Regions from separate parts of the Homo sapiens genome. Here region 1 is linked to region 2. Evidence: fine-mapped expression QTL. A gene starts in region 2. The other region holds a variant in brackets. All regions are shown on one strand. Distances are from middle to middle. Region 1 overlaps TPD52-MRPS28 (TPD52-MRPS28 readthrough). Region 2 holds the start of TPD52 (tumor protein D52).

The links. PIP is the estimated chance that this variant, and not a neighbour inherited with it, causes the effect.
Region 1: its variant is fine-mapped to the expression of TPD52 in blood mononuclear cells (TOPMed, PIP 0.91).

The regions. Positions count from the first base shown.
Region 1 is chr8:80,091,464-80,100,157 of GRCh38, forward strand. The region is part of intron 1 of TPD52-MRPS28 (TPD52-MRPS28 readthrough); the gene reads right to left. The region is part of intron 1 of TPD52 (tumor protein D52); the gene reads right to left. LOC105375918 (a long non-coding RNA gene) reads left to right here. Exons shown (of 3, transcript XR_007060978.1): 3 at 243-761. Among named protein-coding and RNA genes, the nearest start is that of MRPS28, 66 kb to the left of the region's middle. The variant G/T (reference allele first, on the strand shown) is at 4,241.
Region 2 is chr8:80,167,331-80,176,024 of GRCh38, forward strand. TPD52 (tumor protein D52) reads right to left here and starts at 4,234. Exons shown (of 8, transcript NM_001025253.3): 1 at 4,095-4,234. The coding sequence starts at 4,113. TPD52-MRPS28 (TPD52-MRPS28 readthrough) reads right to left here and starts at 4,234. Exons shown (of 7, transcript NM_001387778.1): 1 at 4,095-4,234. The coding sequence starts at 4,113. RefSeq lists a silencer at 4,066-4,395.

The sequences.
Region 1 (8,694 bases), 76 kb before region 2:
CAAAAAAAAAAAAAAAAAATACACAAAAGAGCATTACTATTTTCACTTCGGTCATCTCAGTACATGGTCCTGCCACTGTCATTGTCAGATCATGAGAACACCAGAAAATAGTGGAAAGAGAGCTTGATATTTGTCATATACTTAATTAGATACAATAGACAGATTTTTTCATTTTAGAAATAGAGTTTGAGTTGAAATGTTATGGTCACTCCACATACTGATGGGTGATTCCATGATTACAGGCTCAGGTAAAAGATCTCCAGCCAGTGCTTCTCAAATAACTTTATTACATACCAGAGCCACCAGGGGAGCCTGTGGAACTACAGATTCTGAGTTAGAAAGTCTGGGGTGGAGCCCAAGACTCTTGCTTTCTGGACAAGCTCCAGGTGATTTCTGATGCTGCAAGTCTGGCTTTAGATAACAGCTGCTAAGTTTGCCTGAGGATGAAAGCTTGAGTAAACTCTGAATACTGATGTTACAGGACTCCAGCACTTTCTAACTATATACATTTGAACATAAGAGACAGATTTTATAGCTAAAAAGGTTTGGCTTTTTGTATATATTTCTTATTGATACAAATATGTGTACATGTATATGGGGGCACAAATATGATACTCTATCACATGCTTACACTGTGTAATGATCAAATTAGGGGTTTGGGGCATCTATCACCTCGAGTATTCGTCATTTCTGTGTGTTGGCATTATTCCAAGTCCTCTTTTCTAGCTATTTTGAAATCTACAATACATTGTTGTTAACTATGGTCATCCTACACTGCTATCGAACATTAGAACTTATTCCTTCTAAGGTATGTTTGTAACCATTAACTAACCTCGTTTTATCCTCCCCCCACCCACTGACACATCTTCCCAGCACAGCCACTGTGAAAAACAGTATGGAGATTTCTCAAAACAATTAAAAACAGAATTAACATATTAATAGATCCAGCAATCCTACTACTGGGTATTTGCCCAAATGTAAAGAAATCAGATGTCAAGGATATTTGCACGTGCGCGTTTATTGAAGCACTATTCACAATAGCAATGATATGGAATCAACCTATATTCATTAATAGTTGAATAAAGAAAATTGTGGTATATATACACAATTTATTACTACTTGGCCATAAAAAAATGAATCTTGTCATTTGCAGCAACATGGGTGGAACTAGAGGTCATTATGTTAAGTGAAATAAGCTAGGAACAGAAATACAACTGTCACACGTTCTCACTCAAGTGGAGCTAAAAACTGTAGATCTCGTGAAGAGAGAGTAAAATCACAAATTCCGTGTTATACACATTCTACCACAATTTAAAAAAAAAAAAAGATCACATAATTATAAGAGGTGAGATTGTCACTCACACTTTAAATTACTGCCAGAGGCTGGGAAGAGGAGGAGTTGAGCAGGGGTGGGGGTAGGAATAAAGGATGGAATAAAGGTGGAAGGGGGAATAAAGAATATATTTATTACCAAGGAAGTGTACATTTCAAATGGTACAGATGGTAAATTATATACATATATTTTGTCTCAATTAAAAAATATAAAAACTATAAAAAATTAAATGTTAAAAATAAAAGATTTTGTTTTTTGTTTTTCTGAGACCCTAACAGTTCACAAAGCAGGCAAGTTCAGATAGGACAAAACCGGCTGTGTCACAACAGGGTGTGCACATGCTTGGTCTTTTCAACGGGATAATTATTTCGACTCTGGAATAATAATAATAATAATAAACAGAGTCCAGAATAATGGCTCAGTAATAAGAGAATGAAAGCAGGCCATTCTTACTAAAAGTATTAACAATGTATTTGAGAGTACAGTGGTCTCTATGGTGAGATTACTGGAAGATTAAAGAGGTGTCATCCAAGCTAAATGTTTCCAATTTGCTGAATGAGTTTAAAGACAGCTCTACAGGGGTGCATAAACACAAGCGACTGTCACAACCCTAAAAGGAATAAATGAACTGGTGGACTACATTTTAATGTGGAAAAAACTTCCACAATGCTTACACAGCTATTCCTGGCAATGAGAGGCTCATATGAAACACTTTTCCTTAAGGGAATGGGAGTTTCTAGAGAACAGTAGGCACTTATTTAAAATTAATATTGGACCACAAACTTCTATCATCAGCAAGCTGAGACCTAACAAACAAGATCAAAATACCAAGTCATACATTTAGGCAGTTAAACTTGCTTTTAAACTGTAATAAGCTAATTAGATGCATTCAGTGGGTCAACCATTAAAAAAAATATACACTGCACAAATCTTGTCAATTTTTCATTAAATTTTATTAAGAAACAAGAGTCCTGTGCCAAAAGTGATAGCTTCACCATCTGAACCTGCTACTCTGGTTAAGAAATGACATTTCCAATTCCAAATTTCACATACTTTCCTTTATAAAGACAATAGCAGAAGACCAATGCTACATGTAAACTCAATAGTAGCCCATTATCTTGAAACCAAATCAGTGTGTGGAAAGCTTCAAAACTTTCTTTGCCTTTTGGCACAAGACTGAAGACATGAGATTTTTTTTAACATCTGACCATAATAACTGCTGTATTAATCACTGTGAAGGCTCCTTGTTGACTTTTCTCAGAGTTTTATAAAACATCGCTATCAAACAGGTATTTATCAAAATAGGCATATAATTTTATTTATTCCAGGAAGCTCTCTCAGTGTTAAAAGGATAAGATAATTAACGTTTAGATGGAAAGAGAGCATGGGATGGAAAAATGCTCTCCTGAAACACAGCCAGATCTATGAAACCATACAATTACTGTCATGTCATCTCTGAAAGATCAAGTTAACAATGTGTATGATTTAATAATCTTACTTAATATGGCCAGGAATGCTAACAAATCGCCAAGCCAATTTGTTCTTATTCTTACGCAGGTAGCTAGACTACACCTCCCAGGCTCCTTTGCAGTTAGATGTGGCCATGTGACTAAGTTCTAGACAAAAGAAAATTTTATATATATATATATATATATATATATATATATATATATATATATATATATATATGTATGTATATATAACATGAGGGAGACATAAAGATTGTTGCCAATAGCCACTGAGATTTTGGGAGTTACTGATGGAAACATATTGCCAAATATAGCTTCAGATGTATTTCTTCAAATTCCTCTTTTAAAATGATCATATCCCCAGGTAAGAGTTTTGGAAACAGATAGTGGTGATGGTTACACAATGATGTGAATATGATGAATACAACTGAACTGTATACTTAAAAATGGTTAAAATCACAAATTATATCTTATATACACATATTCTACCATAATTTAAAAAAAAAATGATCACTTAATTATAAGAGTTGAAATAAGTTGGAACCATGATTAAGAAGTATTTTAAATACTCTTTCCTGAAAATATAAGCAAGACCTTTGTGTCCAGACTTGTTCAGAAAATGCTCTAAGTGAAGAAGAGGAAGCCCTGGGAGAGGCAGGCCTGGTTAGGTTGTCACAATAAGGAGGGTAATTGTCAGCAGGAGGAGAGATGCTGGGACCAAGAATATATCACAGATCCTTCAATTGCACTCCCAGGTATTTACCCAAATGAGCTGAAAACTTATGACCACACAAAACCCTGTAGTGAATGGTCATAGTGGCTTTATTCATGATCACCAAAAACAAGAAACCACCAAGATGTCATTCAGTAGGTGAATGGATAATAAACTGTGGTACATCCAGACAGTGGAATATTATTCAGCACTAAAAAGAAATGAACTAGCAAGCTGTGAAAAAACACAAAGAAACTTTAAATGCATATTATTGACAAAAGCCAATCTGAAAAGCCAAAATACTGTAAGATCTCAACTATGTGACATTCTGGAAAAGACAAAATTATGGAGACAGTAAAAAGATCAATGGTTACCAAGGGCTGAGGGGGAGGCAAGCAGGAATGACTAGGTTGGGGTGCTGGTGATTTTTAGGGCAGTGAAAGTATTCTGTATGATACTGCAATGGTGGCTACATATTATGCATCTGTCAAAATCCATTGAACTGGACAACACTAATAAAAACTACAGACTTTAGTTAATAATAATGTCTCAGCATTAACCAAATGTAACAAATGTACCATATGAATTTAAGGTGTTAATAATAAGGGAAACTAGGGGCGTGAAGGAACTCTGCACTACTTGTTCAATTTTCTGTAAACCCAAAACTGCCCTAAAATACAAAGACTAGGCCGGGTGCGGTGGCTCATGCCTGTAATCCAAGCACTT[G/T]GGAGGCCAAGGTGGGAGGATCATGAGGTCAAAAGATCGAGACCATCCTGGCCAACATGGTGAAACTCCGTCTGTCTCCACTAAAAATACAAAAATTAGCTGAGTGTAGCGGCATGCGCCCGTGGTCCCAGCTACTCAGGAGGCTGAGGCAGGAGAATCGCTTGAACCCAGGAGGCGGAGGTTTCAGTGAGCTGAGATCGCGACACTGCACTCCAGCCTGGCAACAGAGTGAGACTCCATCTCTACATACATACATACATACATACTATCGGCCAGGCACAGTGGCTCACGCCTCCAAGCCCAACACTTTGGGAGGCCAAAGCAGGCATATTGCTTGAGCTCAGGAATTTGAGGCCAGCCTGGGTAACATGACAAAAACCCGTCTCTATGAAAAATACAAAAATTAGTTGGGCATGGTGGTGTGCACCTGCAGTCCCACCTGCTGAAGAGGTTGAAGTGGGAGGATTGTTTAAGCCCAGGTGGTCAAGGCTGCAGTGAGCCATGATTGTGCCAATGTACTCCAGCCTGAGTGACAAGAGCAAGAACTTGTCTCAAAATAAATAAAGACTATCAAACACACACACACAAACACACACACACACACACACACACACAAACTTCTCCTAGTCTGCCTGGGGTAAAATACTCAAGCACCAAAACTCATCTGCTTGGACTATGGTCAAGGCTTCCTAAGTATCTGAAGTAGCACCAAAGAAAGCATGTTTACATGTACAGGCATACTCCTGTTTTACTGCACTCCACTTCATTGCACTTCACAGTATGTTTTTTACAAACTGAAGGTTTATGGCAACACTGTGTCCAGAAAGTCTATCTATTAGTGCCATTATTCCAGCAGCACATGCTCACTTTGTGTCTCTGCATCACATTTTGCTAATTCTCTCATTATTTCAAACTTTTTCATTATTATTATATCTGTTATGGTCATCTGTGATCAGTGACCTTTGATGTTACTATTGTAATTGTTTTGGGATGCCACAAACGACACCCATACAGGATGGCAAACTCAATCGATAAATGTTTGTGCTCTGACTGTTCCACAAACTGGCCATTCTCTCATCTCTCTCCCTCTCCTCAGGCCTCCCTATTTGATGAGACACAACAATATGGAAATTAGGCCAATTAATGTCCCTACGATGGCCTCTAGGTGTTCAAATGACAGGAAGAGTAGCACATCTTTCACTTTAAATCAAAAGCTAGAAATGATTAAGCTTAGCGAGAAAGGCATGTCAATAGTCTCTGTAGGCCAAAAACCAGACCGCCTGCACCTGCCAGGTTTTGAATGCAAAGAAAAAGTTCTTGAAGCTTCGAAATTACAAGTGCTACTCCAGTGAACACATGAATGATAAGAGGGCAAAAACAGCCTTATTGCTGATATGGACAAAGTTTGAATGCTCTGGATAGAAGTTCAAACCAGCTCAACACTCCCTCAAGCCAAAGCCTAATCCAGGGCAAGGTCCTACCTCTCTTCAATTCTATGAAGGCTAAGAAAGGTGAGGAAGCTGCAGAAGAAGTCTGAAGCTAGCAGAGGTTGGTTCATGAGGATTAAGGAAAGAAGCCATCTCCATAACATAAATGTATAAGGTGAAGCAGCAAGTGCTGATAGGGAAGCTGCAGCAAACTATCCAAAAGATCTAGCTAAGATAATTTATGAAGGTAGCTGATATGGTTTAGATCTGTGTTCCCATCCAAATCTCATGTCAAATTGTAATCCCCAGTGTTGGAGGAGGGGCCTGCTGGGAGGTGATTAGATCATAGGGGCAGATTTCTCCCTTGCTGTTCTCACAATAGTGAGTTCTCAAGAGATCTGATTGTTTAAAAGTGTGTAACACCTCCCCACTTTGCTCTCTTCCTCCTGTTCCACCCATCTAAGACGTCCCTGCTTCCCCTTTGCCTTCCACCATGATTCTAAGTTTCCTGAGGCCTCCCCAGCCATACTTCCTGTACGGTCTGTGAAACTGTGAGCCAATTAAACCTTTTCTTTATAAATTACCCAGTCTCAGGTAGCTCTTTACAGCAATGCAAGAACAAACTAAAACGGTAGCTACACTAAACAACAGATTGTCTATGTAAATGAAACAGCCTTTTATTGGAAGAAAATGCCCTCTAGAACTTGCAAAGTTAGAGAGGAGAAGTCAATGCCTGGCTTCAATGCTTCAATGGACAGGCTGACTCTCTTCTTAGGAGCTAATGTAGCCAGTGACCTTAAGTTGAATCCAATGCTCATTATCATTTCAAAAGTTCTAAAGCCCTTAAGAATGATGCTAAATAAATCTACTCTGCCTGTGCTCTAGAAATGGAATAACAACGCCTGGATGACAGCCCATCTGTTTATAATATGGTTTACTGAATATTTTCAGCCCACTGTTGAGAGCTACTGCTCAGATAAAGATTTCTTTTCCAAATATTACTGCTCATTTACAATGCACCTAGTCATCAAGAGCTCCGATGGAGATGTACAAGGAGATGAATGTTGTTTTCATGCCTGCTAATACAACATACATTCTGCATACCATGGATCAATGAGTAATTCCTATTTTCAAGTCTTATTATTTAAGAAATCCATTTTGTAAGGCTACTGTGGCCAATCTGCCAGAGATTGCTCGGGTGGGTCTGGGCAAAGTACATTAAAAACCTTCTGGAAAGGATTCACCATTCTAGATGCCATTAAGAAAGTTCATGTTTCATGGGAGGAGGTTAAAACATAGCATAACAGGAGTTTGGAAGAGGGTGATTCCAGCCTTCATGGATTACTCTGAGAGGCTTAAGACTTCAGTGGAGGAAATAACTGCAGATGTGGCAGAAATAGCAAGGGAACTATTACAGAATTACAAGTGGAGCCTGGATATGTGATTGAATAGCTGCAATCTCATGATAACACTTGAAGGGATAAGGAGTTGCTTCTTATAGATGAGCAAAGATGAAATCTACTCCTGGTGAAGATGCCGTAAACACTGTTGAAATAACAACAAAGAATTTAGAATATTACATAAACTTAGTTGATAAAGCAGCAGCAGGGTTTGAGAGTTTTGACTCCAGTTTTGAAAGAAGTTCTACTGTGGGTAAAATGCTATCAAACAGCATTGTATGCTACAGAGAAATTTTTTTGTGAAAGGAAGAGCCCATCAATTGCCACGGCCAGCTCAACCTTCAGCAGCTACCTCCCTGATCAGTCAGCAGCCATTCTCATTGAGGCAAGACCCTCCAGCAACAAAAAACATTAGGACTCACTGAAGACTCACTGACCGTTAGCATTTCTTGGCAATAAAGTATTTTTAAACTGAGGTAAGTGCACAATTTTGTTTTGTTTTGTTTTGTTTTGGGGGCGAGGGTATATACACAATTTTTTAGACATAATGCCTATTGTGCATTTAAAAGACTACAGTATAGTGTAAACATAACTCTTACATACACTGGGAAACCAAAAAATGTGTGTGAGTCGCTTTATTGCTATATTTGCTTTAATTATGGCTGTCTGGAATCAAACCCACAATATCTCCCAAGGTATTCCAGCAGTTCCAATGGAAAGGCTAAGCTCATAATAAAGGAAATAACGGCCCTATTATAATATCAAATGCCATTATTAATGCAAAGTAGACAATCGCCTGACCAACTGTAGCTAAATTCTTGGCATTTATGAAAAAACAAACAAACAAACAAAAAACACAATGTTTTGAATATCTGGCCAAGCTAGAGATGCTGCAAATGATGGGAGGGTATTACCATCTGCAAAGAACCTTCCACCACAGGTGAGGGAGGTTCACAAAACTGGATGGTGGTCTAACATCTTTTTTTTTTTTTTTTTTTGAGATGAAGTCTCGCTCTGTCACCCAGGCTGAAGTGCAGTGGTGTGATCTCGGCTCACTGCAACCTCCGCCTCCCAGGTTCAAGTGATTCTCCTGCCTCAGCCTCCTGAGTAGCTGGGACTACAGGAGCGTGACACCACGCCCAGCTAATTTTTGTATTTTTAGTAGAGACGGGGTTTTACCATGTTGGCCAGGCTGGTCTTGAACACCTGACCTCAAGTGATCCACCCACCTCAGCCTCCCAAAGTGCTGGGATTACAGGCGTAAGCCAGCGCGCCCAGCTGGTCTAACATCTTTTTAAAATGAAACAGAAACAGATATCTATTGAATGCAGAAGTAGAACAAGTTTAAGGCCTACATTTAATTCTTAAAGTCTCTTTTCTTGGCAAATATTTGGTGAAAACAGCCTATCAAGATGACAAACCTATTATGGCCCAATGATACAACAAATACTGGCAGCCCTAGTTCCTTTCTGTGGATTTCTAAGAAGGCAGGCATGGGCCCCAGCATCTTCTCTAAGTAGTGTTCTAAACATTTAACCTGCATGTTTATCAAAACACGCAATTTTAAATTTAGATTCTTGATAAAGAGGATTTGATTTAGAAAGATAATCCTCTGGGGAAATCTCGC
Region 2 (8,694 bases):
AGGGATTTGGGTGTTCTTTTTGGTTTTGCACTGTGAGTGAGCGTATTTGTTTTTATTACATGCATACATTATTCTGTTTTGAAATCTTGCTAAAAGATCACAACCCCTCCTACCACTCAGCTATTCCCCTAGGGACTAGGCAGCCTGCCACATAAAAATAAATGCAGGAAGTGAAGAAGAGCTAACAAAGACATCAGCACCATATGGAAATCACGAAACTGTTGACCAAATAAATTAACAGCCTGGATGGGGTGGGTCACACCCAGAGACTTGGGAGTAGACCCTCAAAATTATTATCCATTATTCTCTACATTTGCTTTATTTTTAAATAAATGATACCCCACATTTCTGTTATTTATTTCTAAGGCACAATTACAATGTTAAAATGATAGTGACATATTATTGTGTTATTCTTTTTTTGAAGCCTTTCCTCTCTAGTTTTTTGGCCTCAGGAACCATTCCTCTTCCCCTTAAAATTATAAAGTTGTTTTGCTTTGTTTAAATTCAAACTAGTATAATGTGTAGTGGGCTACGTGACTGTCACTTCTATATAACAGTGCTAAACTAAAGGTTATGACTAACATGAGAGCACTCAAGTATACATATTTATTCAGCTCCATAAAAGGTAGTCAGGAGGGTTTTCTACACAATGTATGCTCTAGTTAGCAACACTGCTCTATCAAAGTAGGAAATACCACACACAGTAAATGTGCTGCGCTGAGCTTAATGCTTGGAAACTCTTGAAAGGCATGATGCAATTTAACGTATTTTAAATCATTTGATGTTCACTGAACTCTCACTGTAAGCAGAGTATTGTATTCAAGCCCTAGGTATGAGAGAAAGTAGAAAAACAACAGAATCTGGGCCTGATACTACAGAGCATTAGAATACTCGTGGTTGAAAACATAAGGAAAACTCAGTGTTTATTTTAAAAATTTACAGCTCTGTTAAGTACAATCAGTAGCAAGAACAGATTTTTTGATAACTTCACATAAGAAGGTTGGAAGAGGGATTTTCAATAGATAAATGCATGTAAGACAAGAGGTAGGGCATTTAATTTTACAACTAGAGTTTCATTAGGGATTTTTTAAGGGACAAATATAAGAAAACTCCATGTACATTAAAAACTATTAAAAGTTCAACAAATCCTAAAATTTTCTGCTTTGGTTTTAAGTATGTTGCCAAAATCACAATTCAGGAGACAATCACAGAGTTTGATAAACCTTATTTCAGCCAACACAGTTTGCTAGTGAACACCAGGTTTAAAATCCCAGGTTGTGCCTTTTCCAGTTTAAGGCAGGAGTCTTGCTCCAGATTCACTTAAGACTGAGTCATCCACTCTACTAGTTCTAAGATCTTCCATGTAAAGTTATCCTCCAAGCCCAGCACTGCCTTATCAGCAACTCTCTGGCTAAGTTCTGCTTCTTGAGAATAGACAGGGAAAACAGAACAGGAGAAAGTGGGAAACAAGAGATGGATTTGGAGGGACACAGAGGTTACTATGGCTGGGGCCTGCTCTTGGACACTTTCCTCACTCATCTTAGGCAGTCAACACATATTTCTAAGCACCTACTGTGTGCACTGGTAACATAAAGATGAAAAGGCAGGTAGGCAGGTGGAAGCAAGAGTAAGGAATGGCCAGGTGGTTTTGTTTTGTGTTTGTTTGTTTTTTGAGATAGAGTCTCGCTCTGTCGCCCAGGCTGGAGTGCAGTGGTTTGATCTAAGCTCACTGCAACCTCTGCCTCCCAGTTTCTAGTGATTCTCCTGCCTCAGCCTCCTGAATAGCTGGGACTACAGGCCGGTGCCACCGCGCCGAGCTAATTTTTGTATTTTTAGTAGAGACAGGGTTCCACCTTGTTGGACAGGGGTCAAACTCCTGGCCTCAAGTGATCTGCCTGCCTCAGCTTCCCAAAGTGCTGGGATTACAGGTGTGAGCCACCGCACCCAGCCTTGGCCACGTTGTTCTAACACAGCAAAGCTTTGGAGTAAATGAACTGACCCTCCCAAGGCAGTGCCTCTTCTTTCATTCGGAGCAGAGTCCTCCACCTCACCCAAAGAACATATGGGAAAATTATAGACACGAAAAGACTCATCTTACAAGATAAAGATTTGAAAAAAATATGTCTTAGAATTAGACACTTAAACTAGTCCTATAAAAACTACACAAGAAGTTGGAATACTGCAGTGCTACCAATGACTGTTGATTCTTACCACCCAAGCTAGAACACAAACACTACTAAAACTAGTTACTCCACTCACGTAAGTAAAACACAGCCGTTTAATTTACTTTGACAAGTACCAAACATAGTTATTCTAAAAACATCATTATGTCAAACGACAGTGTGTAACAGATTAGTATACAAATACACATGGGCACGTTTGTCGTCATGTCTCCCCCGTCCTGCGTCGCCCCCATTGAAAGCCAGACAGACATAATGCTGACTTACATGGTGGCCCCTAAGCCGGCTAACAATATATACAAGACATGTGACAAGCTTTCTAACTCAAACATTTGCATGTCTACTATGTACAAGTCATCATGTTATCCCACTCAGGACAACCAAAGATGAAATGTTTCTAACCTCAAGAAGCTTAAAATTTAGATAATAATATGTATGTGTATATATACGTTATACAGGTAATGTATAATATATATATACACATAGGTAACACATATAAAGCATATTGTATGTAATGTTTGTAAGCACTTGTGTTAAGTCTGAAATTAATCTGAAGGGGAGCGAGGAAAGAGCTGAAAGACTCCAAAGAGTCTATCTTACAAGTAAATGAAAGTAAAGTACAGGCCTGGCCCAGTGGCTCACACCTGTAATCCCAGCACTTTGGGAGGCTGAGGCGGGTGGATCACCTGAGGTCAGGACTTGGAGACCAGCCTGGTCAACATGGAGAAACCTCTGTCTCTACTAAAAATACAAAATTAGCCGGGCTGTGGTGGCGCACACCTGTAATCCCAGCTACTTGGGAGGCTGAGGCAGGAGAATCACTTGAACCAGGGAGGCAGAGGTTGCAGTGAGCTGAGATCCCGCCACTGCACTCCAGCCTGGGCTACAGGTGGAGACTCAAAAAAACAAACAAAAAAAACACCAGAGTCTGAAAAAAATAAAGTACAAGATAGTATATTTGGAATATGGTTTGATTTACATAAAAATGCACACATGACGGCACATACTGGAGGAAAATAAGCAATACATGAAAACTTGTGTCAGGGCTCAAAACAGGAGTGATTCCTATCCTCACTTCCCAAGATTACCTACCTTGTTTTCTTTTTTCAGCATTTATGTATCTTTTTAAAAGCGTGCCACACACATCTGCGTACAGTCACAGGCTTATGATCAGCAGAGATCTCTAGGATGAAACTATTTAAATCTGAAAACCATGGCCTACTATTGCTCTATTTGGGGGTAATTTCACTTGAGCTGTTTTCAGAAGCAAGTGCACCCAACGCTATGGTAAATTAGACTGAAGGTTTTGTGTTGTGGGATTTCACCCTTCCTACGAAAAGCTCTCTTCCCTCAAACCCACAGACACCACTCCACAATCTGGGGGTTTCTAGTATGATAAATATCTGCCTCCCAAACCCCCCATGGGTCATACGCCACCAAAAATCCTAACCACCTGAACTTAGAAGAAGGCAGAAAGTCTTAATTTATGAGGGAGAGAGGGGTTTCCCACCTGGAGGGACGAGAGCGACTCACTGTCCTCTGTTCCTGGTTCCAGTCACTTACAGGAGCTGGCTGCGCCGTGCTCCCTTCACGCGGCTTTCCACCCAAAGCGCATCACGGCCGCCAGCCCCTGACGCTAGCCCCTTCGCCACCTCCCAGAACCTTCTCTCCCTCTCCCCCACACACGCACACTCACACTCACACATGCAGTCCCATCTGCCCCCGCCAGAGCCGCTCCTTCCAGGGCCCCAGGATGCCAGATCCGGATCCGGGAGATGCAACTTGCGGCGCCGGCCCAGGAGGCTCGGCACCTGCTCGAGCCGCCGGGCCGCGCTCAGCCCCGCGCCGAGCCAAAGCCCGAGTCCAAGCCCGAGTCCAAGCCCGAGCCCAAGCCCGCTGGGTCCGCGCCCTCACCTTGCTCGCCGCGGTCCATGTCTCCAGCCCGCCGCCTCGTGTCCTCTGCAGCACCCCCGCCTGCAGCCCGTCCCGGCTCGGATCGCCCGCCGCGCCGCGCAGAGCTCCTCCTCGCCTCCGCCGGCGACTCCCGCGAAGTCCCCACCCCCAGAGGCGTCGGGCGCGGCGGCGCCGCCCGCCCTCGGCCTGGAGCGCTTTCCTGGGGCGTCACCCAACCACCTGACCCGGTCGACCTGTGCGCTCCGCCACGTCGGCGCGGGCGGCGCAGCGCTAGGAGGGCCGGGCGCACCCCGACTCCCGCACCGGCTGGAAGTCGGCCGGGAGGAGGGAAGAGGACGGCGAGGAGATGGACTCGGCCATGGAGGCTGCGTGGAGCCTGCTTGGGAACCGGGATGGCGTTTGCCTTCCACCATCAAGTTATTTATAAAATCAAAAGTTTCCTCCGAGGCCTTGGAGATGCCCTTTCTCTGCATCTGCGAACACCTACTTTCCTATACTTACAGTAGGAAACACAGGAACGTTATTTAGAAATGCCAGTGGCTCTTTTCTCTCTGTATTTTATTACCTAAATAATGCCCTATGATGTCTTCTCTAACTAGGTCATAAACCAGCATAGGTGAAAATTGCAAAGAATCTCTTGAAAAATTATATAGTCTTTTCCATAGAATGCGGATTTTTTAGGTGACTAGGAAGATTTTCATATAATAAAAATCTGTTTTGAGTGCGGGACTGAGGACAACACTAAAATGAATTAAATCAAATGAAATTAATTAAATTAACCGAAGGTCAGAATTATCAGCAGAGATCTTTGGAAAATGCGTGTTGAGGCGTCATGTCCGTTGATCAAAGGACAGTTTGAGGTTCCCGTAACAATCCAGTTCTTTTCATTAGTAGCGTTAACAATCTGTTTTCACAGGGTTTTGCAGTTACTCGTCTTCCATGAAGTCACTTTGATTGTATGGGTCATGGTCTTCAGGTGGTGTCTCAATTTCGTAAGCTATCTGAGGCTGCAAATGAAGTGGGGCTTCTTTTCTGTGTTGCTTGACGTTTAGGCCGAAGCATTGTGTAGCACTCCACAGACAACAAAGAAGCACTTATTCAGATGTTTTAAAATTACTTGTAGTTACCTGAAGTGACTGTATGCTATTAATATCTCTATACTGTCGTGCTGTATGTAAAGTGTAGCTCTCTCCAGCCTGCATCTTCCAGTGTCTTCTGGGGACGTTTACTGTTTGACTCAACCAGATGTGATCTCTTCTATTTGAGTCCTTCTACTCTGACTGCACTTGGCTCCTCTCCTGTGGCACTCACCCCAGCACTGGTGCCAGGATGCTACCAGTGTATGTTTCACAGTCCTATTAGGTTACAAGCTCCAGGTGGTAAAGTCCTTAAAATGGCCTATTAAAAAAATCAAAAAACAGGCCTGGCACGGTGGCTCACGCCTGTAATCCCAGCACTCCGGGAGGCCAAGGCGGGTGGATCACTTGAGGTCAGGAGTTTGAGACCAGCCTGGCCAACATGGTGAAACCTTGTGTCTACTAAAAATACAAAAATTGTCGGGCGCGGTGGCTCACGCCTGTAATCCCAGCACTTTGGGAGGCCGAGGCGGGCGGATCACGAGGTCAGGAGATCGAGACCATCCTGGCTAACACGGTGAAACCCCATCTCTACTAAAAATACCAAAAATTAGCCAGGTGTGGTGGCGGGCGCCTGTAGTCCCAGCTACTCGGCAGGCTGAGGCAGGAGAATGGCATGAACCCGGGAGGCAGAGGTTGCAGTGAACTGAGATCACGCCACTGCACTCCAGCATGGGCAACAGAGTGAGACTCCATCTCAAAAAAAAAAAAAAAAGTTCCAGGTGGGCAAAGATTATTTTGGTCATCTCTGCATCCTTTAATTCTACCATGCAATTAATAAATATTGTAATTTTAAACCAGGCATGGTGGTGTTTGCCTGTAAACCCAGCTACTCAGGAGGCTAAGGCAAGAGGATTGCTTGAGCCCAAAAAGGTGCAATATTTTTTAAAAAATTTTTAATGTAACATAAAGGTAAATTTTGGCATCAGCAGAAAATTCTGTATGTGGTAAAGAATTTTTGACTAGCTGATGCTGAGATCTATTGTATAGAAATAAACATCTGGAGAGACAATCTCTCAATGTACTAATTTGTGGACAAATAAATAGCACTTGAACGTGAGTGTCCGTTACAAATATTTATTGTTTGTATCTGTTTAACTTACTATATAGTGATGAACTTGTTATGTATGCTGAAAGGAAAAAAAGTCTTATCTTTTGAAGAGCTTATAGAGTAGTTCACATGCAGCAGAGATGGCAAATAGCCTACCTGATAAACAGCCTTCCTGTTTTCCTTCCTAAGATAACCTAAATATTGTTTGGAGTGGCAATGTGCCCAGCTGAAACACTGGGCACTTCAAACTGCCTTGCAGCTGGAGGTGGGTCTCTCTCATTAATGTCCAATGAGATGTGAGCAAACTGTACTAATTGGAATCTCCAAGAAAGCATTTAAAAAGAAGACAGACTTGGCAGCATTACTTGGCCCTTCACCCTTCCCATTCCTGCTTAGAGGGGCAATAGCCATTTTGCAAACACGAGGAAGAAATTCACAAGCCAAGGACGGCAGAAAGAACCCAAGAATCCATGGCATCAGAGACCTGCTTCTTACTGGAAAAAAATAAATGCCTGACTTTGTAAGGCCACTGTAGTTGGCTTTCTGTTAGATGGAGCCAAATGCAATCCCAACTGATAGAATGCGCCATATAGAAAATGCACTCTGGCATGCACCCACGTAGGTGGATACATGCAATCCTGAGCCTTAGAGATAGATTAACTTAATTTTCTCTTTGAGGTTAAATGAGCACTGTTCATACTATAAATATCCTAGTACATGATATTTCCACAAAAGCCTGCTTTTCTCTTACATCTTCCTACTACATGTATTTCTACAAAAGCCTGCTTTTCTCTTGTGTCTTCGTACTACTTCATTTGTTTTCTTCTGACAGAATCTGTGCTTACAATTTATGCTGTGTTACTTCTGAAATGAACAGGTCTTATGTTTTAGCACTCTGAGGAATCTCTGGAGAATGGCTAGCACTTAAACAGAGCACCTGGGTGCATTGAGTTGAACCACATTTAAAAGGCTCAGTACAGGAAAGAAACACTAGATTTACTTTGTGGTGTTATTGTTGATGGGAACGTGGATTTTTTTTAAGTTTCTTTTTTTAAGTTTCTTTTTTCAGAATACTCATTTGTTGGTGAAATTTTTACAAGAAATTGTAAACTTCCCCTGAAACAAATGCATTGAAGCAAATGAAGGTATTGAAAAGGATAGATAGAAACCGACTTATGTAAGTGGAAAAACTCTATACTCTGCCCTTGTTGTATGTATCTTCCTTGACCGATAGCCAGCAGAAATCACACAGAATGTGTGGCAAGTGGGATGCTTTCTGTAGTCTTACCCCTCATATTTGTGGGGCCTGGGGCGAGGATACAAATGGAGCCCCTGGCTTTCTCTTCTGGCTCTGTCCTTTCACTTTGACTCTGTCCTGCACCAGGCTGGCCCACTCCCTTGTGCGTGGATGCCTTAGGACATATCCCATCTCTATCCACCCTTTCCCATCAGCCGAGCCTTGGCCATACCTCCATTCTAGGGTTGCACTCAAAAGGACTGTCCTGGGAGAAAAGCTGAAGGCCTTGACAACAGATGTTGGCCAGTTTAGGCAAGAGATTCTGTAGTTATAGGTATCAGATGCACCGTTGATAAAGAGGGGGTAGATATTTGATGCTAGGGACTGCTCATCAAGGAGAACAAAAGTGGGAAGTCTCTATGGGACCCAGGGCGCCCAGTGGAGGGGCTTCAGGTAGCCTGGGTCTAGGGTTGCTGCCAGATAAGATAAAAGGACACCCAGTTCAATTTGAATTTCAGATAAATGACAAGTAATTTTTTAGTGTAAGTATATCCCTGGCCAGGAGTGGTGGCTCACCCCTGTAATCCCAGCACTTTAGGAGGCCAAGGTGGGTGGATCACTTGAGGTCAGGAGTTCGAGACCAGCCTGGCCAGCGTGATCAACCCCTGTCTCTACTAAAAATACAAAAAATTAGTTGGGTGTGGTGGCACATGCTTATAATCCCAGCTCCTCAGGAGGCTGAGGCAGGTGAATCACTTGAACTCGGGAGGTGGAGGTTGCAGTGAGCCAAGATTGCACCACCGTACTCCAGCCTGAGTGACAGAGCAAGACTTCATCTCAGAAAAAACCCAAAAAAGTATACCCTACAATATTTGCAACATACTTATACTAAAATTTATTATTTATCTTAAATTCTTAGCAAGTTGTCTTATATTTCTATTTGCTAAATCTGACTACCCTACCTATGTCAAAGGGTAGTTCTGGCTCTCTGATTGTTCAAACAAATGAAGGCATATGATACCACAATTTTGAAAATTATATCATCATCCAGGAGAAAGATAGACTCTTCCTGCTTGAATCATGGTAGTAAACAAAGGGATGAAGGTTAGGAGGCCCAAGAGATCAAGAACAAGTTTTGGAGAAAAATTGATTTAATGTCAGGTAATGAACATTTTT